3 separate regions of the Homo sapiens genome follow, and regions 2 and 3 are each linked to region 1. Evidence: fine-mapped expression QTL. A gene starts in region 1. Each other region holds a variant in brackets. All regions are shown on one strand. Distances are from middle to middle. Region 1 holds the start of RAB43 (RAB43, member RAS oncogene family). Region 2 has its middle 24 kb from the start of CNBP. Region 3 has its middle 42 kb from the start of TRH.

Region 1 (8,179 bases):
TAAGAATGTTAAATTCTTGGCCGGGCGCGGTGGCTCATGCCTGTAATCCCAGCAGTTTGGGAGGCTGAGGTGGGTGGATCACAAAGTCAGGAGATTGAGACCATCCTGGCTAACACAGTGAAACCCCGTCTCTACTAAAAATATAAAAAATTAGCCAGGCATGGTGGCTGGAGCCTGTAGTCCCAGCTACTCAGGAGGCTGAGGCAGGAGAATGGTGTGAACCCGGGAGGCGGAGGTTGCAGTGTGCAGAGATCGCGCCACTGCACTCCAGCCTGGGCAACAGAGTGAGACTGTGTCTCAAAAATAAAATAAAATAAATATGTTTCTTGGCCGGGCATGGTGGCTCATGCCTGTAATCCCAGCACTTTGGGAGGCCGAGGTGGGCGGGTCACCTGAGGTCAGGAGTTCAAGACCAGCCTGGCCAACACAGCAAAACACTGTCTCTACTAAAAATACGAAAATTAGTTGGGTGTGGTGGCACACGCCTGTAATCCCAGTTACTGGGGAGGCTGAGGCAGGAGAATTGCTTGAGGTTGCAGTGAGCCAAGATCAGGCCATTGCACTCCATCCTGGGCAACAAGAGTGAAACTCTGTCTCAAAAAAAAAGTTAAATTCTTGACCAATTTTTTTTTCTTTCTTTCTTTTTTTTTTTTTTTTTTGAGACAGAGTCTCGCTCTGTCGCCCAGGCTGGAGTGCAGTGGCATCATGTTGGCTCACTGCAAGCTCCACCTCCTGGGTTCACGCCATTCTCCTGCCTCAGCCTCTGAGTAGCTGGGACTACAGGCGCCGGCCAACACACCCGGCTAATTTTTTGTATTTTTAGTAGAGACGGAGTTTCACCATGTTAGCCAGGGTGGTCACGATCTCCTGACCTCGTGATCCGCCCATCTTAGCCTCCCAAAGTGCTGGGATTACAGGCGTGAGCCACCGTGCCCGGCAACTAAATTCTTGACCTATTTTAAAAATTTTGCAATATAGGCCGGGTGCGGTGGTTCACGACTGTAATCTCAGCACTTTGGGAGGCCGAGGTGGGTGGATCATGAGGTCAGGAGATCGAGACCATCCTGGCTAACACGGTGAAACCCCGTCTCTACTAAAAATACAAAAAATTAGCTGGGCATGGTGGCGGGCGCCTGTAGTCCCAGCTACTCGGGAGGCTGAGGCGGGAGAATGGCGTGAATCCGGGAGGCGGAGCTTGCAGTGAGCCGAGATCGCGCCACTGTACTCCAGCCTGGGTGACAGAGCGAGACTCCGTCTCAAAAAAAAAAAAAGTGCAATATACATTTTTTCAAATTTGGTGTATTAAATGAAACATAAATATTTTTTAATTGCTGCATTTCAAATTAGCATGATTCCATTTCAAATAAAATGCCACTGTGCTACTCAGGAATTTACCACCAAAAGAGGAAATGCAGATATTAGACAGCTTTATTGAGGTATAATTTACATACCATAAAACCCACAGGTTGTAAGTTTACATTTTAATGATTTTAATAAACTTGAGGAGTTGTGCAACCCTTACCACAGTCCAATTTTAGAATCACCCCGCAAAGGCAAGGGAGTGGTGCCTGGGTTTTCTGACAAAATCTATACTCAGACCAACATGTCCCCTGCCCCAGCCCAACCAGTTCCAGGCTAGAGCAGTGGAAAGGCCAGTTAGCTATCCAACCACCGTCTACCCCTACGCTTCATCCTGGCTCCTGGATTCCACACCATTTTGTGCTGTGGTAGCTGCTCTGAGCTGGGGGCAGGCCTTGTTTTCTGGAGTTCTGGACTTTGACCTGAGCTAGTCCCAGCATGCAGAAACCTTCCATCCCATCTCCTGTCTACTTCTACCCTGGAGTGGAGGTTATTTCCTGCCTCTCTAACTCTCCGCTCCCATCAGGTGTACCAAAGTGGGGCTCTCAATTGCTTTTCAGTGGCACTTTGGGGTTTCCTGTCTGATTCTGTTGGGTATTTCCCATGGGAGTGGAGTTCAAACTTTCAGAAGAAACAACTCTTCTGCCTTCTCCACGGGGTCTGCCTTTGCAGACTGCTCATTCAGTCCCTTTCTATCTTGACCTGAAAGGTTGGCTGGGGTCCTCACAGTGGCACTGGGGGACTTGCTCTCTGCGAAGTCTCCTTCAGCTTGAAGACTTTCCCCTTTTCTCCTGGATTTTTGTCTGCTTTGTCCACAGGTGCATTACAAGGCCCCAGGACAATGCCCGCCTGTAGTAGCCATTCATTAAATATGTTGAATACCTGGAATTGGAGTGCCACAAGGAAGCTGTCTAGAGGGGTAAGGGGTGCTGTCAATTCCTTCCCATCTTCGGAGCTGGGAAGCCCAGTCCTGTTGGATCTAGTATAAGCTTCTTACAGATGTTTGGGTCTCCTTTCTCTGAGGCGCCCTGGTTCACTGGGCCAACTCAGGAGTTGGTCTGCCCTTCCTCAGAAATCCCTTCAAGTTTTTCTGTTCCTCTTCCTAGACTGGTGCTTTTTGGCTGGGTCAGTTTCCCAAATGGGCCTGTAGCTGCTCTGAGCTGGGTCATCCAGCCGTTTAGCAGCTGCTTCAACCACTGCTAGGCTGCCTTTTGGAGACAAGAGCTCCCAGCTCCTCCTTCTGGCCTAGCTTCCCATCAAATGGGGCCCTGGGTCCTCTCCTCACAAGGATTTTGGGCTCCTCCGCAGTTTTGTAGCCAGCCTGGATTCTGGCCTTCTGCAGCCTGCTCCCTCCCTTCCCTTCCGCCCCTGGGAAGAGCGACCCCCACCACTCTCGGAGACTGCACTGCCCGCCTGTCAGAGTGGGCACTCAGGTGACACTGCTGTGGTCGTCCCCTTCCTCCGTGATCCATTCCGGAGGGGGTCATTCTTAGTCTAGGCCTGCAGGCCCGGAGCTCCAGCCATGGTCTCCGCCTGTCCCTGACCGGCGGTCTGGGAGGCAGCAGGTAGGGGATCCCGGGCAGGCGGACCAGGCCTGGGTGGGGGGCGAGCAGGAGGCGCGGGACAGCACCTGGGGGTCCCAGCTGATGAAGGGTCGGGGTGGGCAGCGGTTTGGGGGCCAGACGGATCCGCGGTGTGGGCGCGCCGGGGTGTTGATGGAGGAGGGGCCGAGGTGCTGAGGGCGGGGTCGGGCTGGGGTCGGGGCTGAGGGCGGAGTCGGGTGGGGCGGAGTCAGAGCTGAGGTGAGCCTGAGGGCGGAGTCGGGGCGGGCTGAGGTGGGCCTGTGGGCGGAGTCGGGGCGGTGTGCTGAGGTGGGCCTGAGGGCGGAGTCGAGGTCGGGCTGAAGGCGGAGTCGGGGAGGGCTGAGGTGGGCCTGAAGGCAGAGTCGAGGTCGGAGCTGGGGACGGAGTCGAGTTCGGGCTGAGGGCGGAGTCGGGGCGGGCTGAGGTGGTCCTGTGGGCGGAGTCGAGGTCGGGCTGAGGGCAGAGTCGGGTCGGAGTCGGGGCGCGCTGAGGTGGGCCTGGGGGCGGAGTCGAGGTCGGAGCTGAGGGCGGAGTCGGGGGCGGGGACGTAGGCGGAACCCGGGTCGGGCTGAGGTGGGCCCGAGGGTTGGGCTGGGGGCGGAGTGGGTGCCAGCCTGAGGGCGGAGCCGGGGGCGGGCGGGGGCGGGCTGGGGCGGGCCTACAGGCCAGACTGGTGTGGCACGGAGCTGAGGACCGGCCGGAGCTTTGCGGAGGGCCCGGCTTGGCGGGTCCGGGGGGGAGCCGAACCCGCGGGGCACCGGGTCCGGGCGGGGCCGAGCCGGGCCGGGGCGGGAGCCAGCCGGGGTGGGGCGGGGCCGAGGCCGAGGCAGGCGGTCGGCAGTGCTGGGGGTTCAGGTGTTGCGGCGGCTCCACGTAGCCAGGCGGCCCGTGGGCTGGAGCGGGCGGAGCTCGGCCCGCGGCTTGCGTGAGCTCAGGCCGGTCCCAGCGTCCAGAGCGCCGGCCCTTCGGCTTCTTCTAGGCCATGGCAGGGCCGGGCCCAGGCCCGGGGGACCCGGACGAGCAGTACGATTTCCTGTTCAAGCTGGTGCTGGTGGGCGACGCAAGCGTGGGCAAGACGTGCGTGGTGCAGCGCTTCAAGACCGGCGCCTTCTCGGAGCGCCAGGGAAGCACCATCGGCGTCGACTTCACCATGAAGACGCTGGAGATCCAGGGCAAGCGGGTCAAGGTGGGAGGCCGGCCAGGGCCCCTGGAAGGCGCTCCCTCGGAGGGTGGGGCGGGGGCAGCGGAGCCCCTGGCCGCGGCGAGCGCACCCCGCGTCCATCTGAAGTTTCCTTTGGCTTCCCCTTTTTCCTTCCTCGGGTCGGAGCAGGCCTGGGCCCCGGGGTCTGGGCCGGGTTCAAGTCCTCAAAGCGCCGGCCGTGGGTTGCTGGGGGGGGGGGGGGCGAGGGAGTGTGGAGGAGGCGGCCCTGCCCTCCGGAGCTCACACCCTAGGAGGGGACTGTGCTCCAAAATAACTTTAGCCATTGGAAGGCAGGGGGTTAGACTCCCCTGTTCCAGGTACTAGCGGAGCGCCTTGGAGTGCGGAGATCAGACCCCCCACCTCCATCCACCGCGATGGCAGCCCCCAGCTCAGCCCACCGGCGGGGCACTCAGCCAGAGAACTGCATCCCCACCCCAGGACTAGGAGCGATCAGGAAGTAGTTGCTTTTAGGACCAGAGGGCCAAAACTTTTTGTCAGAATTTCCGGCCTGGCCACGCCTCCCTGCAGTCTCTTTGTGGACCTGGTGGTGGAACTTTACTCGACTAGGGCCAGCCCCGGTTCCCTCCCCCAGCTGGAGTTTGATAGAAACTGAAAACTTCACAGATACCGGAAGGTGGGGGAGAGAACCAAGCTTTGGCAATGGCTCCGAATAAAAACAGCAGGATGTGGTTGCCACAATGTCCTGGCAGTGGTTTGATAAATATTTGTGATGAATGAAATCAGAGTTTCTTAACCTAGGTGTTAGTACTCCCTAATCAACCAGGAGATCCTGGGCTGAAGGCACTCAGTAACTTTTCTGAACCGCACTGTACAGAAATCTTTGCTTGCTTTCATGGTTTCGAGCCCCCATGATCTTCAGGACACCCTCAGGGCACAGGGCTGGGACGATCTCTGCCAGGGAGATGGGAGTCACTGGAGCCTTGCTGCTGCTGGGCTCTGCCTCTCCGGGTGGCTCTAGGCCTGCTCCTTGTTGCCTTTGGCTAGGATATGTAGCTCTTTGTCTTTGTTTCTATAAAATTGGGATAATTTCTGGGTGTTGCCTCCCTCCTGCCCCAAGGTGGAGAAAAAAGTAAGTCAACAGTCTTTATGTGTCCACAGTGCCTCTCAGTAGATGTGACGGGGAAGCAGAAACTCCTGCCTGAGGGGTTTTATTATTATTATATTTTAATCGTCTTCTGGGGTCTGTGTTTTGGTCTCCGTGGATGGAAAAGAGCAAGGTGCAGAAGGCAGCTTTGAGTCACTCGGGACCACCCTTTTGGAGCAGGTAGCCAGGGAAGGGCTGGAGTGGGTGGAGTGTCCGTTATTGAGTGTGCCCAGTGATGATGCCAGCAGCTGCAGGGAAATGGGAGTGTGAAAATACAGGCTAAAGAGCAGTGGTGTCCTCCTCATGTGCTATCGGTCTGTGTCTGGAGTGTCTGTGGTGGCCCAGTGCTGACGGTGGTCAGGGAGGGGGCAGGGTTCCTGTTTACCTGTTGAGATAACAGACTGTGTCCCAGCAGAGCTCCTGGTTTACTGCGCACGGGTTATGCAATGCAGGGCCAGGCAGTTCGTTATTTTCTTTCCTTATGGTTGCCTCCAGATTGTCCTTCCTAGGAAGCAGCCCGGGGCCCAGGGAGCAGAAGAGCTGTGTAGCTGTGGTAAACACCTCTCCAAGTTATAGCCGCTGACCTTCTTGAGAGGCTGTTGGGAATCAGCTGGGTTACAGGTGCATTCTCTGCTGACTGGAGGGAATTCTTACCCCCGCTCACACAGGATGGAGCCTGGGCACACAGCTAAGAAGTGATAGAGGTGGGAATATTTTTCCCAGTTTTTCTGACTCCAAAGCAGATTTCTCCCCCATAGTGGACAGCTTTTCAGAATCCCGTTGTCTGTGGTGGGGAAGCCTCTGGCAATTGTTTACCACCTCATTTTGCCGGCAGGAAAACCTGAAGTCTAACTCACTGCAGAGGCTCCAAATTAAAGCTGGGCAGCCGTGAACTTGAGGGAACACTGTCCTTCGAGTCAGGCTTCCTGGGGTCCGCTGCCGCAGCAGGAGCAAGCCATTTTCCCTCCTCCATCTGTAAAGTGCCTCTGAGTAGTCTTTTGGCAATGTGATTTTAAGTCAAGTTTTTTGAGGTCTAATTTACACACGGTAAACCTTCACCACTTGAGGTGTTACAGGTCTATGAACTTCTCAAACTTACACAGACAAGCAGCCACATCACTATCAAGATGGAGAATTTTTCCACCAACCCAGAAAGTTCTTTTGTTCTTCTGTAGTCAGTTCCTTTCACCTCATCCTGTGGCAACCCCCGATCTGTTTTTTGTCTCTGTAGTTTCAGCAGTGTGATTTTAACTGAAAGCCTTGATGAACCAGAGCTTATTGTTGTTTTTTCTGTGGAAAGCAAGTGCACATCAGGGATTCAGTGTAAAACCTTTCCAGGGGCCGGGTGCAGTGGCTCATGCCTGCAATCCCAGCACTTTGGGAGGCCGAGGCAGGAAGATTGCTGGATGTCAAGAGTTCGAGATGAGCCTGGCCAGCATAGTGAGACGTGGTATCTATTTAGAATAAAATAAAATAAACCTTCTCAGGGCCTGTCTTGGGAAGCCCGAGATGCTTGTCCAGCAAGCATCCAGTCTTATATCCTAAAGCTTTCCCTGTGATTCTTTACAATGATGCTGGGTTTTATTAGAGCTTCAGGAAGCTTAGAGATGGATCACCTGGTGGTTTTCTAGCTCCTGTGAGCTTGGAGGTACTGAAAGGTAAGGAGAAAAGCCAAGAGGTCAGAGAGAGGGTCAGAAGGGCTTTAACTAGCTTCCCAACCAGTCAGAGCAATACCTTTATCTAGTTGTAGGTTGAAATTCTTGTTATTTGACTAAAGAATTCTCCTGCTAAAAAAACCGAAACATTTGAGAATCACAGATTTAATCAAATTACTTTATTTCTGTAGCCACTTCCCATTACAACCAGAATAACCTCCAAACACCTTCCCCAAAGAGATGGACCTCTGGAAGGAGACAAAGTTGGAGAGGCAGACAGAGGCCCATCTCTACCCTTCACTGCCTGCTCTCCAGCTTCACTAGCCCTTCAACATGGTGGGCTTACCCCTGCCTCAGGACCTTTGCATCTCTTCCCGTGCCCATCATACTCTGCCTCTAGATCCCCACGTAACTGCTACTTCATCATTCAGGTCCCAACGCAAATGCCACATCTTCAGAGAGGCCTTGCCTGATCTCCCAGGTCCTCTATTCTGTAACTCTATTGTATCTGGTCATAACACTTACCACAGCTTCAAATTAACTGTTTTTTTCTGTCTGCCCCTATAGAAGGTAAGCTCCTTGAAGACACAGGGATCCAGTGGGCCAGTGTCAAACACATGGTGTCCAATATGTGCCTGTTAATTGGTTCCTTTATAGAGAGAAAGCTGAGGCCAAGGTCACTTACAACTCTGTGGCAAAACCAAGGGTTTGGCTGGCTCCTAAGCCCAGTCTTCATTTTTACTTGACCACCCTTCTGATTTGCTCTGAGTTCATAAAGATGACCGTGAGATTCTGAAAGTGAATGGATCTAATAAAAATGCAGTTGTGGCCATTGCATTCACTGAGAGAAGAATGTGGAATGGGGCATTTTAGAAAGATTGGGGTTGACAGTTAAAGAGTTTTAGGGTGTTTGGTTTATTATTAACCAAAACGTGTAGATATACCCAAACGGCTCAGAGACACTGCTGTACGAGTCAGTAAGGCTTTGTATATGGTGATCATTTCCAGTGTTCTTGTGGATGCATTTGACTGTAGCTATGAGAACTGGACTTATAAAGTGAATCTGAGTGCTGCTTATCTTGCATACTGTGGAGTCTCTGACAGAGAGCACTGGACTAGGAGTCTGAAGTTCTGAGTCTTGCTTCAACCCTGCCACAGACTTGGGCAATTCATTTTTTTTCTCCTTGGAGCCTCAGGCTTCCTCATCTGTGAAATGGGACTAATGGTCTTTGCTCTGCCTCTTTCTTAGGGTTGTCAGAAAACTTTGAACATGCTT
Region 2 (8,179 bases), 87 kb before region 1:
AAGACTTCATGGAGCAGGGCCAGTCGGCTTTGGACTCAGGCCAAGAGCAGCCTAGAAGCTGCACCGGAAGGATCCGAGGAGGCAACTGGTGGGAAGAGAGGGCTGCAGAGGCCGAGTGGAGCCAGCATGGGGCCTCCCTGCCAGTCATGGGGCTGTGGAGTTTTCATTCTGCAAAGCTACAGAGCCACTGAAGGGCTGGTTGGTTTGTTTTCTTTCTTATTTTGGTGGCCAAATGTATATAACAAAATTTGCCATTTTAATCATTTTTAGGCAGCAATTCAGTGACATTAATTATATTATTGTGCAACTATCACTGATAACTATTTCCAAAACTTCTCCATCACCACAAACAGAAACTCTGTACCCATTAAGCAATAACTCCCACTTTCTGTCTCTATGAATTTGTCCCCTTTTATTTATTTTTTTAAGACAGGGTCTTGCTTAGTCGACTACCCAGGCTGGAATGCAGTGGTGCCATCATAGTTCACTGCAGCCTCAAATTCCCTGGATTTTGCCTATTACAGATGTTTCTTATAACTGGAATCATACAATATTTGTCCTTTTGTGCCTGGCACATTTAACCTAGAAATGTTTTTAAGATTCATCCGTGTTGGCTGGGCGCGGTGGCTCACGCCTGTAATCCCAGCACTTTGGGAGGCTGAGGCGGGCGGATCACAAGCTCAGGAGATCGAGACCATCCCGGCTAACACAGTGAAACCCTGTCTCTACTAAAAATACAAAAAAAAAATAGCCAGGCGTGGTGGTGGGCGCCTGTAGTCCCAGCTACTCGGGAGGCTGACGCAGGAGAATGGCGTGAACCCGGGAGGCGGAGCGTGCAGTGAGCCGAGATCGTGCTACTGCACTCCAGCCAAAAAAAAAAAAAAAAAAGATTCATCCGTGTTGTACCTACCATGTATCAGAATTTCATTCCTTTTGGTTTTTGGTGGGGCTGAATATATCATGCTTTTTTTTTTTTTTTTTTTGAGACAGAGTCTAGCTCTGTCGCCCAGGCTGGAGTGCAGTGGCGCAATCTTGGCTCACTGCAGCCTCTGCCTCCCGGGTTCAAGTGATTCTCCTGCCTCAGCCTCCTGAGTAGCTGGGACTACAGGCGCCCACCACCACGCTCGGCTAATTTTTGTATTTTTAGTACAGATGGGGTTTCACCATGTTGGCCAGGATGGTCTCGGTCTCCTGACCTCCTGATCCGCCCACCTCGGCCTTCCAAAGTGCTGGGATTACAAGTGTGAGCCACCACAGCCAGCCAATATCATGCTTTTGTTTGTTTTTATTGTGGTAAAACATACATAACTTAGAATTTATCATTTTAACCATTTTTACATGTAAAATTCAGTGGCATTAAGTGCATTCACATTGTTGTGAGCCATCACAACTCTCCATTTCCGGAATTTTTCATCTTCCCAAACTGATACTCTGTACTCATTAAACACTAACTCCCCATTCTTTCTCACCCCAGCCACTGGCAACCAGTACTTTCTGTCTCAAGGAATTAGACTATTCCGCATACCTCATATAAGTGAAATCTCATTTGTCCATATGTAGTTGGTTTATTTCACTTAGCATACAATTCTCAAAGTTTACCCCTGTTGCAGCATGTGTCAGAATCTCATTCCTTTTCAAGGCTGGATAATATCTCATTGTGTGTGCAATAATACTCCATTCTGCATTTTGTTTATCCATTAATCCATTGTTGGATGTTTGGGTTACTTGTGCCTTTCAGCTATTGTAAATGATGCTGGTATGATGACTGGTATACACAAAACCGTTAAAATCCTTGCTTTTGATTCCTTGCAATATATACGTAGAAATGAAATTGCTGGATCATATGGCGGTTTGGTTTAAATTTTTAAGGACTCATCAAACTGTTTTCCAGAGAGACCCACCAGCAATGCATGAGGGTTCCAATTCGTCCACATTCTTGCCACCACTTGTTATTTCCTATTTTCGTTCCATTTTAAGGCCAAGTAATCTTCCATTGAAGAGTATATACCGTGTTTTGTGTACCTGTTCATCTATTGATGAACATGAGTTGTTTCTGCCTTTTGGCTGTTGTGAACAATGCTAATGCTTCAATGACCATTGGTGTTTGTGTCCCTGTGTTTAATTCTTTGGGGTATACACCTAGGAGTAGAATTGCTGGGTCATATGGTAAGTCTATGTTTAACTTTTTGTTTTGTTCTGTTTTGTTTTTGAGACAGAGTCTCGCTCTGTCGCCCAGGCTGGAGTGCAGTGGTATGATCTCGGCTCACTGCAACCTCTGCCTCCCAGGTTCAAGCGATTCTCCTGCTTCAGCCTCTCGAGTAGCTGGGATTACAGGCACCCACCACCACGCCCAGCTAACTTTTGTAAATTTAGTAGAGACGGGGTTTCACCATATTGGCCAGGCTGGTCTCAAACTCCTGACCTCAAGTGATCCACCCGCCTCGGCCTCCCAAAGTGTTGGGATTACAGGCATTAGCCACTGCGCCTGGCCTGGTTGGATTGTTTTCTAGAGACACCAGCAGTTATTTCTTTGACTTCGGTTTGATTAACTGATGACTAGAAGAGGTGATAAAATTACTGTACTTAGAAAATATTATATGAAATATATCTATATAGGAGGGCTGGGTGCGGTGGTTCACACCTGTAATCCCAGCACTTTGGGAGGCTGAGGTGGGCAATCACTTGAGGTCAGGAATTCAAATCTCTACTAAAAATACAAAAATTAGCCAGACGTGATGACGGGAGCCTGTAATCCCAGCTACTCAGGAGGCTGAGGCAAGAGAATAGCTTGAACCCAGGAAGCGGAGGTTGCAGTGAACGGAGATCGTGCCATTGCACTCTAGCCTGGGTGACAAGAGTGAAATTCTGTCTCAAAATAAAATAAAATAAAAATAAAAACAAAGCTTAGCTAGGCATGGTGGCGGATGCCTGTAGTACCAGCTATTTGGGAGGCTGAGGCAGGAGAATTGCCTGAACCCGGGAGGCAGAGGTTGCGGTGAGCAGAGATCGCGCCAATGCACTCCAGGCTGGGTGACAAGAGCGAAATTCCATCTCAAAGAAAATAAAATAGGCTGGGCACAGTGGCTTACACCTGTAATCCTAACATTTTGGGAGGCCGAGGCGGGCAGATTGCCTGATCTCAGGAGTTCGAGACCAGCCTGGGCAACATGGTGAAACCCTGTTTCTACTAAAATAAAAAAATAAAAAAATAAAATTAGCCAGGCATGGTGGCGTGCGCCTGTAGTCCCACCTACTCGGGAGGCTGAGGCAGGAGAATTGCTTGAACCAGGAGGCAGAGGTTGCAGTGAGCCGAGATCGTGCCACTGCACTCCAGCCTGGCAACAGAGTGAGACTCCGTCTCAAAAAAAAAAATAAATAAATAAAATAAAATAAAAATAAAAACAAAAATTAGCTGGCCAGGCACGGTGGCTCACACCTGTAATCCCAACACTTTGGGGGGCCAAGGCGGGCAGATCACCTGAGGTCAGGAGTTTGAGACCAACCTGGCCAACATGGAGGAACCCTGTCTCTACCAAAAATACAAAAATTGGCCAGGCGTGGTGGCATGCGCCTGTAGTCCCAGCTACTCAGGAGGCTGAGGCAGGAGAATCGCTTGGACCCGGGAGGTGGAGGTTGCAGTGAGCCGAGGTCGCGCCACTGCACTCCAGCCTGGGTGACAGAGGGAGACTCCGTCTCAAAAAAAAAAAAAAAAAAA[T/AT]TAGCTAAGCGTGGTGACAGACGCCTGCAGTCCCAACTACTTGGGAGGCTGAGGCAGGATAATTGCCTGAACCCAGAAGGCGGAGGTTGCAGTGAGCCGAGATCACGCCACTGCACTCCATCCAGCCTGGGCAACAGAGCGAGACTCCATCTCAAAAAAAAAAAAAAAAAATATATATATATATATAGAGAGAGAGAGAGAGTAGAATATTAAAGTATAAGAAAAAAACATAAAATATTTTATGTATTGCTAGTTTCATATAGACTACAAATGTCCTTGAATCAATTAATGCATTCCTTTTATAAAGATTTATATAATGCTATAAAATCCATGATTTATATTTACTTGGCTTGTCCTAGGCTGGGACAGCCTGAGATATTTTGTACGTGGACTCTGCCAACTCATTTGTGTTTATTTCTCAGAAAGACAGTTCCAGAACACAAGCTGATTATCTGAAAGCCTGCTGGATAAAGTAAAATATTTAAAAGCAAACAATGTTTATAGTTGCTCTGATTCAGCACAATTTAGATTCTGTTTTGGCAAAGAAAACTTAACGTTCTGCTACTTCTCAGCCACCATCAATAGGGAGAGCTTCAAGCCCCTTATCCAAGTGACCATCCTTGCAAAGGCAGCCTCTGGAGACAGTGGCTGGCAGCCAGCGTGGACAGGCCTCTCAGGCTGCATCGTGCCTTTATGTCACTTTGGCACATTTGTTTGCAAAATCAGGGCTGACTTGTGTTGTTTTAATTTGAAGCGAAATGAAGGGATAAGAATTCAACTAGAGACTTAAAAAGGAAATAAATTCTGAGCATGAGCTACAACATGGGTGAACCTTGAGGACATCATGCTAAGTGAATAAGCCAGTCACAAAAGGAAAATACTGTATGGTTCTACTTACATGAGGGCCCTAGAGTAGTCAAATTCATAAAGACAGAAGGCAGAATGACAGTTGCTAGGGGGTGGGGGAAGGGAAAATGGGGAGTTAGTGTTTCATGGGGACAGAGTTTCAGTTGAGGAAGACAAAAAAGTTCTGAGATGGATGGTGGTGACGGTTGCCCAACAATGTGAATGTACTTAGTGCCACCGGACTCTTCACTTAAAGTGGTAAATTTTATGTTATGTGTATATATATATACACACACACACACACATATATATATATACGTATATATATGTATATGTATGTGTGTGTGTATATATATATATATATATATATATATATTTTTTTTTTTTTTTTTTGAGATGGAGTCTCACTCTGTCGCCCAGGCTGGAGTGCATTGGCGCCATCTCTGCTCACTGCAAGCTCCGCCTCGCGGGTTCACGCCATTCTCCTGCCTCAGCCTCTCCGAGTAGCTGGGACTACAGGTGCCTGCCACCACGCCCGGCTAATTTTTTTGTATTTTCAGTAGAGACGGGGTTTCACCTTGGTCTCGATCTCCTGACCTCGTGATCCGCCCACCTCAGCCTCCTAAAGTGCTGGGATTACAAGCGTGAGCCACCGCGCCCGGCCATTATGTATATTTTACCACAATAAAACATTCAGATAGAGAATCCACTCCAAAGCTGCAGAAGGCCTTGGCTTGTAAAACAGAAATCTGCTAGCCAAGCATGGTGGTATATACCTGTAGTCCTAGCCACTTGGGAAGCTGAGATGGGAGAATCGCTTGAACCCAAGAGTTCAAGGTTTCAGTGAGCTAGGATTGTGCCACTGCACTCCAGCCTGGGCAACAGAGGGAGACCCTGTCTCTAAAACAGCAACAACAAAAACAACCAGAAATCTGTTTAGTCTTCCTTTAATGAACACTGACCCTTTTAAAAAAATCAACTTAAAATGTAGTGAGGTGGGCAGGGCACAGTGGCTCACGTCTGTAATCCTAGCACTTAGGGAGGCTCAGGCTGGGGGATCACTTGAGGTTAGGAGTTTAAGACAAGCCTGGCCAACATGGTGAAACCCCTTCTTTACAAAAACACAAAAATTAGTTGGGCATGGTGGTACATGCCTGTAGTCCCAGCTACTCAGGAGGCTGAGGCAGGAGAATTGCTTGAACCCAGGAGGTGGAGGTTGCAGTGAGCTGAGATCATGCCACTGCACTCCAGCCTGGGCAACAAAGTGAGACTTGGTCTCAAAAAAAAAAAAAAAAAGTGGTGAGGTGGAGACTTAGAAATTAAAAAAAAAAAATCCTTCCAGATTAAAGTTCTAAGTCAGACTCGGTGTCAGATGCAGTGGGCGCAGGGGGTCAGTATCCAGGGCCATCATTCTGCCACGTACACAATGTGGCCAGGCTGATGACAGGCTCAGCCTGCCTTTGTACACTTGTCCCTTTCAATTTAACAAATGGCTGTAAGCACCTACTCTAGGCCAGCACTAGGGAGACAGAAAATACTTGTGACCCAGTCCTGTCCTAGGAGCAGCCATCCTGGTGGGGAAGCCCCCATGTGTTTCTGTAGAACCTTTCAGCCCAGTACATAGCATACCTGATGGAGTGGGGGCGGGGCTCTGCCAGGGCATCTCCTCCTGAGGGTGTGTGGGTCACTGCCTGCAAAGACTGTGACCCAAGGATGCGTGGTTCACCTGGGAGTTGGCAGGAACGGCAAGCACAAGAGTGGTCCAGGCAGAGTATGTGCAGGGCATGAAGGCAGGAAACTCCCAAAAACTCTCCACAGCCCATGTGGCTGCAGGGAGAGGCAAACCTAGACCACAGAGGCCCACATGGCTTTAGCGTGTCCTGGTGTCATAGAATACTCTGCTTGTATGGTAGGCTCTTGTCATTTGTAGGCTGAAGCAGTCTTAGTTTGGCCTGTTCTCTGGTGACCCTGAAGGTCCAGGACAGTGTTACTTGGTCATTCTGCTAAGGCATAGAGTTGGGCTTTTCTTGGCTGAGAGCGGGAGAACTTTGTTGTTGCCATTGTTTGCTTACCTCACTACGTGGCATTCTCCCGTTGGCAGTGTTTGTGTGTTTATGTTTTGGCAAAGCTCTCTCTAAACACAGCCCTGGTAAAGTAAACTCCATAAGGCTGGGCACAGTGGCTCACACCTATCATCCCAGCATTTTGGGAGGCCAAGGTGGGTGGATTGCTTGAAGCCAGGAGTTCGAGACCAGCCTGGGCAACATAGGGAGACCCTATCTTTACAAAAAATACAGAAATTAGCTGGGACTCACACCTGTGGTCCCAGCTACTGGGGAGGCTGAGGTGGGAGGATCATTTGAGCTTGGGAGGCAGAGGTTGCAGTGAGCCGAGATCATGCCACTGCACTCCAGTCTGGGCAACAGAGAGAGACCCTGTGTCAAAAACAACAACAACAACAACAACTCCATAAGCCAGATGATCCTCTGTGTCATCTGCAGTGCCTGGAACATGCCTGTCACACAGTAGGTTCTCAATAAATGTTTGCTGAGTGTACTTTTTTTTTTTGCAACCCTATTAACTGAAGAATGAATTATTGAATCATTTGCCAGAGTTCTACTGCATTTGGTTCTGTATTCTTCTCTATTGGAGTGTAGCCCGTGGGCAGGGACAGTGTCTCTTTAGTAGGAGCCAAGAATTAAATGAATCCTGTTAAATTACCATGTTACTTATAAGCAAATGCAGGTTCAGGGCTGATGCAGAAACAGAATTTTTGCTAATGTGATTTTGGCTATATGTTTTTTACATTCATTTACATACCAAAATTCGGGTAATATCTACTTTTTAATTCTAAATTTATTCAGTTATTTAGTTTATTTACTTAGTTTTTCTAAAGTTTCAACTAATTAAAATTTCCTAGCTTTATTTTATGATTTTGATCAGAATTTGTATATTATTCCTACCTATTCAAACTGTGTATAAAACCGTATAAAACAGCTTTTCACATGAAGAAATATGATGTCTATTTTAATGCCTCTTTTGTTTTTTGTATAATATAGGTACAGGGGGAATGAAACTAATAATTATTCAGTGGCCAGTAAATACTAGGCTTGAGCTGGGCACTTTTACATATGCAATCTCATTTCATTTAAGCCTCACAAAGTCATGTGAAGATGATCTATGTTTTGGAGACAAGAAAACTGAGCTCACAGAGGTTGAAGAACTTGCTCCAAGATAAAGTCCTGATTCAAACCCTGTTCTGACTGTTTTCAAAATGTATGTTTTTTTGGTATTTCTATAGCACTCAGTAATGGTTATTGGACTGTAAGCAACAGAAATTGTGCATTTAAGGTATGAGGACACTCTGGGCACAGTGGCTCCTGCCTGTAGTCCCAACTACTCAGGAGGCTGAGGCAGGAAGATTACCTGACTCCTGGAGTTTAGGGCTGTAGTGAGCCATGACTGTACCACTGCATTCCAGCCTGGGCAACAGAGCAAGATCCCATCTCTAAATAAATTAACAAAAATTTAAATATAAAGCAACTATTATCAATATGTTAAAGGTTACAACAGACATAATGAATGAAAAGATTAGTTATTGCTGGAGAGAAATGGAAA
Region 3 (8,179 bases), 900 kb before region 1:
ACAAAGTTTTTAGAGGCATCAAGCTCCAATGAGTAAGAACAGAAATTAATTGTAATATGATTTCTTCAAATATTATCTTCAAATGCATTGTCCATCAACACCATACAAATGTTTATTATGCTGTTTTTTCTTACCATTTCGCATTTTCTATTTCTTTCTTCCTTTTCCTTTTTTTTTTTTTTTGAGTCAGAGTTTCACTCTTGTTGCCCAGGCTGGAGTTCAATGGCACGGTCTCGGCTCACTGCAACCTCTGCCTCCCATATTCAAGCAATTCTCCTGTCTCAGCCTTCCAAGTAGCTGGGATTACAGGCATGCGCTACCATGCCTGGCTAATTTTTTTTTTTTTTTTTTTTTTGTATTGTTAAGAGAGAGACAGTGTTTCTCCATTTTGGTGAGGCTGGTCTTGAACTCCCGACCTCAGGTGATCCGCCCGCTTCCGCCTCCCAAAGTGCTGGGATTACAGGCATGAACGACCGCGCCCAGACACCACTTAGCATTTACATTTTACATTTGTTAAAGTTATAGATTTATACACACATTGATTGCTGCTTTGTTATACACTTGCATATACATAAGATGGGAAATAGAAAAGAATAAAATGGGCACAGTATCCCTGAAGTTTCACATTCTGAGACATTTTAAAAATATTTGCTCTTCAGAAATTTGTTTCAATTAAGAAACTGTGGTATACACACCCGGTGAAGTATGATTCAGCCTAAAAAGGAAGAAACTCCTCTCCGCTGCGGACAAAATGGATGAGATTGCAAGTATGTATATTAAATGAAATAAGCCCAGCACTGAATGACAAATATTTCACATCCTCACTTCTATGTAGAAAGAAAAAAGGAAACCTTGGCCAGGTGTGGTGGCTCAGACCTGTAATCCCAGCACTGTGGGAGGCCGAGTCGCACGGATCACTTGAGTCCAGGAGTTCGAGACCCGCCTGGCCAACATGATGAAACTCCGTCTCTACGGAAAACACAAACAATGAGCCGGGCGTGGTGACGCGTGCCTGTAGTCTCAGCTACTCGGAGAGCTGAGGCCCAAGAAGCGCTTGAACTCGGGAGGCGGAGCTTGCAGTGAGCCCGGATTGTGCCTGTGTACTCCAACCTGGGCAACAGAAAGAGACTCCATCACACACCTACACACAAAAGGAATCTCAGGAAGGTGGAAACTATAAAGGTGATTAGCAGATGCTAGGAAGCAAAGGGGTGGAATCCGGAATGAAGACAAGTGGATAATTGGGTCCCAAAATACTGAAAGATGGAATAAGTGAGTTCTAGTGTTTGATAGTACAGTATGAAAATTTTAGTTCACAAAAATTGCTTGCATATTTCCAGATGCTTTGGTAAGAAGCTTCCTAACTTTCTCATTATACTGGTTTTTAAGCTCTTCTCTTTCTGCTACTGAAATGATGCTGGCTTTTTGATTTTGTTTTTTGTTTTGAGATGGAGTTTCGCTCTTGTTGCCCAGGCTGGAGTGTCACGGTGCAATCTTGGCTCATCGCAACCTCTGCCTCCTGGGTTCAAGCGATTCTCCTGCCTCCACCTCCCGAGTAGCTGGGATTACACGCATGCAGCAGCACGCCCAGCTAATGTTGTATTTCTAGTAGAGACGGGGGTTTCTCCCTGTTGGTCAGGCTGTTCTTCAACTCCTGACCTCAGGTGATCTGCCCGCCTCGGCCTCCCAAAGTGCTGGGATTACAGGCGTGAGTGACCGCGCCCGGCCCATGCTGTATCCTGATCTGTTGTCTCTTGCTGTTTGTTTGTTTTGGAGCCCGGAAATAACTTCTCACCTATATGTTCAAATGGTTTTTCACATGAGTGCTAAGAAAGCTCATTGGTGGAAAGCAGCCTTTTCAAGAAATGGTGTTGGAGAAACTTGATTTCCATAAGCACAAGACTGAAGGTGGACCCTATGTCACACCAGGTGCAAAAATTAACGCAAACTGGATCAAAGACCTCACCCTAAGCGCCAAAAGTATCATACGCCTAAAAGAAAAGATTGGCCACAATTTCATGACATCAGATTGGGCAATGTTCTCTGGGATATGACACCAAAAGCATAGGCAACAAAATTAGATTCCTTGGATTACATCTAAATGACAGACCCTTTTGTGCAGCAAAAAACACTGTGAACTGAGTGAAACGATAACCCAAGGATTAGGAACAATATTTGCAAAGCATATATCTGAAAAGAGGCTGATATCCATCGTATATGAAGAACAGCTAGAACTAAACCACAAGAAACCCAAAGCATCCCATCAACAATGGCCAGAAGACTCGAGTAGATGTGTCCCTAAAGAAGATATAGCAATGGCCAATAAGCATCTAAAATGATGTTCAAAATCACTCATCATAGGGAAGCGCAAATCAAACCAATCATGTGATACCACACATTAGAATGGATATGATAAACAAACAGGCATTGGTGAGACTAGAGGGAAGTAGGAATGCTCAAATGTGATTTGAGGGAATGTAAAACCGTGAAGGAACGGGGAAAATAGTATGGTGTGTGCTTGAAAAATTAGAAACAGAATGATCAGATGTTCCCGCAGTTGCATTTGTGGGTACCTACCAAAAAGAATTAGAAGCCAGGAGTGGAAGACAGATTTGTGTACACCCATATTCATAGCAGCATTATTCACAACAGCCAAAATGTGGAAGCAATTCAAGGGTTCGTGGACAGATGAATGAAAAAGCACACTGCAGTTCCTTCATACAATGGAAGACTATTCAGCCTTAAAAAAGCAGGCACTTCTGGCCGGTGCGGTGGCTCACACCTGTAATCGCAGCGTCTTGGAAGACCGAGGTGGGCGGATCACCTGAGGTCAGGAATTCAAGACCAGCCTGGCCATCTTGGTGAAACCCTGTCTCTACTCAAAATGCAAAAAATGAGACGAGCGTGGTGGCGTGTGCCTATAGTCCCAACTACTCAGGAGGCTGAGGCACAGGAATGGCTGGAACCCGGGAGGCGGAGGTTACAGTGAGCCCAGATTGTGCCACTGCACTCCAGCCTGTGCGACAGAGTGAGATTCCATGGAAACACAAAACAAAACAAAGTCAAACGAACAAAGAAAAAACTAACAAACAAAAAAAAAAAAAACAGAGAGGCACTTCTGACGCAGGCTGCAACATGGATGAACCTTGAAAACATTATCGTCAGTGAAATAAATAAATCCCAAAAGGATAAACACTCCCAGGCTCAGTGGCTCGCACCTGTAACCCCAGCACTTTGGGAGGCTGAGCCAGGCGGATCACTTCAGGTCAGGAGTTCGAGACCAGCCTGGCCAATATGGGCTCTATTAAAAATACAAAAATTAGCTGGGCGTGGTGGCGCACAGCTGTAATCCCAGCTACTCGGGAGACTGAGACACAAGAATCGCTTGAACCCATGATGTGGAGGCTGCAGTGAGGTGACATCACGCCACTGCACTCCAGCCGGGGTGACAGAGAAAGACTCTGTTTCCAAAACAAAAAAATTAAACACGGTATGATTCCACTTATCTATCAAGTGTCTAGAGTAGTTAAATTCATAGAGTTGCAAACTAGAAAGGTGGCCCCTAGGGGCGGGCGAGAGAGAGGAGTGGAGAGCTTGGTGAATGGGTGCAATTTCCATTTTGAAAGATAAAACTGTTCCAGAGACGATGATGGTGATGGTTGCTAAACAATGTGAACGTACTTCATGTCATGAAACTGTAAAGTGAAAAAGCATGGAAACTGTAAAGGTTTATACTGGCCATTCTATATGAACTAATATATATTTATAATTTTTAATATTTATACGAGGTATATTTTCCCATAATAAAAGATGAAAATTAAAGCAGTTGGATGTTTAAAAAGAAAAGAAAGAAGCGAAGAATACACACCAGCTTTCTCCTGATTAGAGGAAGAGCCCCAAAGCTTCTATGGACACTCACTTTTCTCTTCTTCTTCTTGCATTATTATGAGGAAATCCTTAGAGGTTGGGGAAGTTGGGTGACTTTGGCTAATAAGGAGCTCTGTGCCTTGAGCCCCCCAGGCCACAAAATAGTAAATAGTCAGTCTGTGCCTCCAGCCCTGTAGTGTGAGGTTCCAGTCCTGTGGGCTCCACTCCCGTCACCTGTATCAAGAGGCTCACGTCTCACCCTGTCTTCTTGCCAGCCTTGAGGATGGAGTCTGAGCCTCCATGTTGCACCACACAGGGAGGACAGTGGACCTGTTCTCCATGGTCATGGCCCAGCAGAGGGGAAGGGCAGTTCAGTGAGTGTAGGGAAAAGAAAGAGAGATCAGACTCTTACTGTGTCTATGTAGAAAGGAAAGACATAAGAGACTCCATTTTGAGAAAGACCTGTACTTTCAACAATTGCTTTGCTGAGATGTTGTTAATGTGTAGCTTTGCCCCAGCCACTTTGACCCAACCTGAAGCTCACAAAAACATGTGTTGTATGAAATCAAGGTTTAAGGGATCTAGGGCTGTGCAGGACGTGCCTTGTTAACAAGATGTTTCCAAGCAGTATACTTGGTAAAAGTCATCGCCATTGTCTAGTCTCAATAAACCAGGGGCACAATACACTGTGGAAAGCCGCAGAGACCACTTCCCTTGAAAGCGGCATATTGTCCAAGGTTTCTCCCCATGTGATAGTCTGAAAAGTGGCCTCATGGGAGGAGAAAGACCTGACCGTCCCCGAGCCCAACACCAGTAAAGGGTCTGT[A/G]CTGAGGTGGATTAGTCAAAGAGGAAAGCCTCTTGCAGTTGAGAGAGGAAGGCCGCTGTCTTCTGCCTGCCCCTGGGAACTGAATGTCTCGGTATAAAACCCAATTGTACATTTGTTCAATTCTGAGATGGGGGAAAAACCGCCCTATGGTGGGAGGTGAGACATGTTGGCAGCAATGCTGCCTTGTTATTCTTTAGTCCGCTGAGATGTTTGGGTGGAGAGAAACATAAATCTGGCTTACGTACACGTCCAGTCATAGAACCTTCCCGTGAACTTCATGATGACATAGATTCTATTGCTCACATCTTCGTTGCTGACCTTCTCCTTATTATCACCCTGACTCCTACTACATTCCTTTTTGCTAAAATAATAAAAATAATAATCAATAAAAACTGAGGGAACTCAGAGGCCAGTGCCGGTGCAGGTCCTTGGTATGCTGAGCGCCGGTCCCCTAGGCCCACTGTTGTGTCTCTACACTTTGTCTCTGTGTCTTACTTTTTTTCTCAGTCTCTCATCCCACCTGACTAGAAATACCCACAGGTGTGGAGGGACAGGCCACCCCTTCAAGTGAGTGCTGAGGGACGGTCGGGAACCTTGTTTGTTTCCTCATCCTTAGGACGTACTGGAGACTGCGGTGGGCAGATGTGAGGAGAGCAATATGCAAACTCTGTGCTCAGCATACTGGAATTTCTGTTCTTGGTTGTGGTGGGGGTCTCAGAAATCTTATTCAAAATTTTGCTTTCCTCCCCCACTGGTTGTCCTTTTTATAGACATCTCACCCATGATAGCAGGGAATCAGTCCCTCTAAACTATTCCCTAAGAACAAAAAAGAGATTATGAAGGTGATGAGGATAAAGAGGATGACGACAGACACCATGGCATCATGAACCCTTACTGAGGGCTTACTGAAGGCCTGGCTCTGAGCTCTGTGCTCTATGCAGCTTGTTTCATTTCATCTGCATAGTCTCCATGTTATTAGTTCACATTTCATGATGATTTTACAGACTAGAAAAGGAGCAACGGATTTTCATGTAGCTTGTACCAGATCACGAAGTCAGAAAGGGTGAAGTCCAATTTGAACCAGGCAGTCTAAGTCCAGACACATGGCATTTGGCCAGTCCTCTCCCTGCATCCAACCTGCCCTCTCAAATCCTTGTCACTCAGGCCGATGCCCCTGCTCACTCTGCTCTTCCCTTTGGAGGTTCATTGTAGACCACAGCTAGACCAGTGGGTGCCACAATCACTGTGTCATGTTTAGAAGGGGCAGCTGAGATCACATCGAGGATTCCAGAAGGAATTGGCACAGGATCATTCGGGACGCATATCTCCCTTGTCCCTGTTCCTGGCTTTCCTTACAGTTCTTGACTTCCTCAAAGGAGTCATCAATTCAGCGTTTGGCTTCCATTCCTATTGAGGAATCTGGAAAGTGTTTCAAAAATGCTCCTCCGATGTGCCTGTGGTTAAGACCTCTGAGCTCTGCTTAAATCGTTTGGAAGCTGGGCGCGGTGGCTCACACGTGTAATCCCAGACTTTTGAGAGGCTGAGGCAGGCGAATCACAAGGTCAGGAATTCGAGACCAGCCTGGCCAACATGGTGAAACCCTGTCTCTACTAAAAATACAAAAAAAAGAAGAAAATTAGCCAGGCACGGTGGCGTATGCCTGTAATCCCAGCTACTGGGGAGGCTGAGGCAGGAGACTCCTTTGAAGCCGGGAGACAGAGGTTGCAGTGAACCGAGATCACGCCACTGCACTCCAGCCTGGGCAACACAGCAAGACTCTGTCTTAAAAAAATAAATAAATAAAAATTATGAAACAATGTGCTTGGATGGGCTTGGCAAACTTTAGCCATTAGCTCACGTACCACTTTGGAAGGGCATACCTTCAGTCACTTCGCCCTTTAATCCCTTTGCTCAAGACTAAAGTTCTGAGAGGAAGTCTAATCGGCTGAGTTGTGTCCATGTGGGCAGTGCAGGAAAGGGTGCAGCGGGAGGCGGCTCCAGGGATGTTTTTGGCTTCCATCATGGGGGAGCAGACGCCTGGATTATCCACCCTAACACATCTGGACAAAGGAAAATGAGGTTCTCTGAGGAAGGAGACATAGAGCCCAAGGAGCTAACTAAGAGACAAACAGTCATCCTGTCTTGTCACTTTCTTTTACACACGTGTGTACATTATCTTACACTTATCACTTTGTTTTCTTTCTCTCCTTTAATTGTACCCTGCTGCCAAAAGTTAAAATAAAATGAAAGTATTGAGATAGCTCGGTAACTGACTTTTGGTCAATTGCCTTTTCATATAGTGAACAGCTGCCCAAATCACACTGACAGAGACAGTGATTGTCTCTGTCTCTGTGCAAATTTGCAAGCGTTTGCATGATCACTCCCAATCCCCCAACACAGGGCTGTGTTACAGCACAATTTAGTTCAGTGTTTTGCTCTCTGCAACAGGGAGGTTCTCATCCATTACAGGTTGCAGTAAAAACAGGGGTACCATAAGCAACCACCTCTTTCCTCAACGATATGATGAAAGCAAAAGCCAAGTAGCTCCATGTATCCAACTTAAAAAAAAAAATTACGCCCGTGGGCTGCAGTTAGAGCTATGGCGGCGGCAGCTGTCACTGGGCCTAGCCCGGGGTGTGGACCTGGGGACTCCGCAGAAGGCCCCGGTGGGGAGGTTCACGGAGCGTCGGCGGAAGGCGCACAGGATGCTAAAGCTTTACAACGGCCTCTCAGAATGGGAGGCGGTGGGACTCCCCGCTGGGCCCGACCCCCTGGACCCCACTGATCTGAATGGGGCACACTTCGACCCGGAAGTTTAACTAGACAAGCTGCCTAGAGAGTGCCCTCTGGCCCAGCTGATGGACAGTGAGACGGACATGGTGCAGCAGATCCGGGCTCTAGACAGCGACATGCAAACCCTGGTCTATGAGAACTACGATAAGTTCATCCCAGCCACAGAAATTGACAAACAGCATAAAACTCTATGAGGAACTGCAGGAGACCCAGAATTTCCCAAATAACCTTGTAGAAGAGGAACAAAGTTGGAAGACTCACAAAAAAAAATATACATATATATATAAAGTTGTGTTTTCATTCAGTTGTAAATGTTTAGTAATTTCTATTGTAATTTTTCATTTAACTCATGAAAGGATATTTTTAATTTTCCAAATGTATGCTTGTGTTTAGCTATCTTCTTGCTGTTGACTTCTAATTTTGTTGCATTATGGTCAGGAAAATCTGGTCTGGACAATGTCAATAGTATAGTGGATTTTGTTGAGACTTCTTTATGGCCTAATATGTGGCCAGTTGTTTTTCTTTTTTTGGTTTTTTTTTTTTGTTTTTTTCTTTTTACAAATTTGCCACATGTGGTTAAAAGGAATGTGGATTATTTGTTTTTTTTAGGAGAGTTTTTATTTTTAAATAGATAAGGTTCTCAGTGTAATTGAAATCTAGCTTCAATTAACAATATGCTAGATCTCTCAAAGC

What was found.
Region 2: its variant is fine-mapped to the expression of RAB43 in whole blood (INTERVAL, PIP above 0.99).
Region 3: its variant is fine-mapped to the expression of RAB43 in coronary artery (GTEx, PIP above 0.99).

What each region holds. Positions count from the first base shown.
Region 1 is chr3:129,117,235-129,125,413 of GRCh38, reverse strand. RAB43 (RAB43, member RAS oncogene family) reads left to right here and starts at 3,610. Exons shown (of 3, transcript NM_198490.3): 1 at 3,610-4,128. The coding sequence starts at 3,925. The region is part of intron 11 of ISY1-RAB43 (ISY1-RAB43 readthrough); the gene reads left to right. RefSeq lists silencers at 3,381-3,600, 3,621-3,800 and an enhancer at 4,581-5,526.
Region 2 is chr3:129,203,740-129,211,918 of GRCh38, reverse strand. No RefSeq gene overlaps it. Among named protein-coding and RNA genes, the nearest start is that of CNBP, 24 kb to the right of the region's middle. The variant T/AT (reference allele first, on the strand shown) is at 3,716.
Region 3 is chr3:130,012,655-130,020,833 of GRCh38, reverse strand. It overlaps the pseudogene VPS51P10. Among named protein-coding and RNA genes, the nearest start is that of TRH, 42 kb to the right of the region's middle. The variant A/G (reference allele first, on the strand shown) is at 4,694.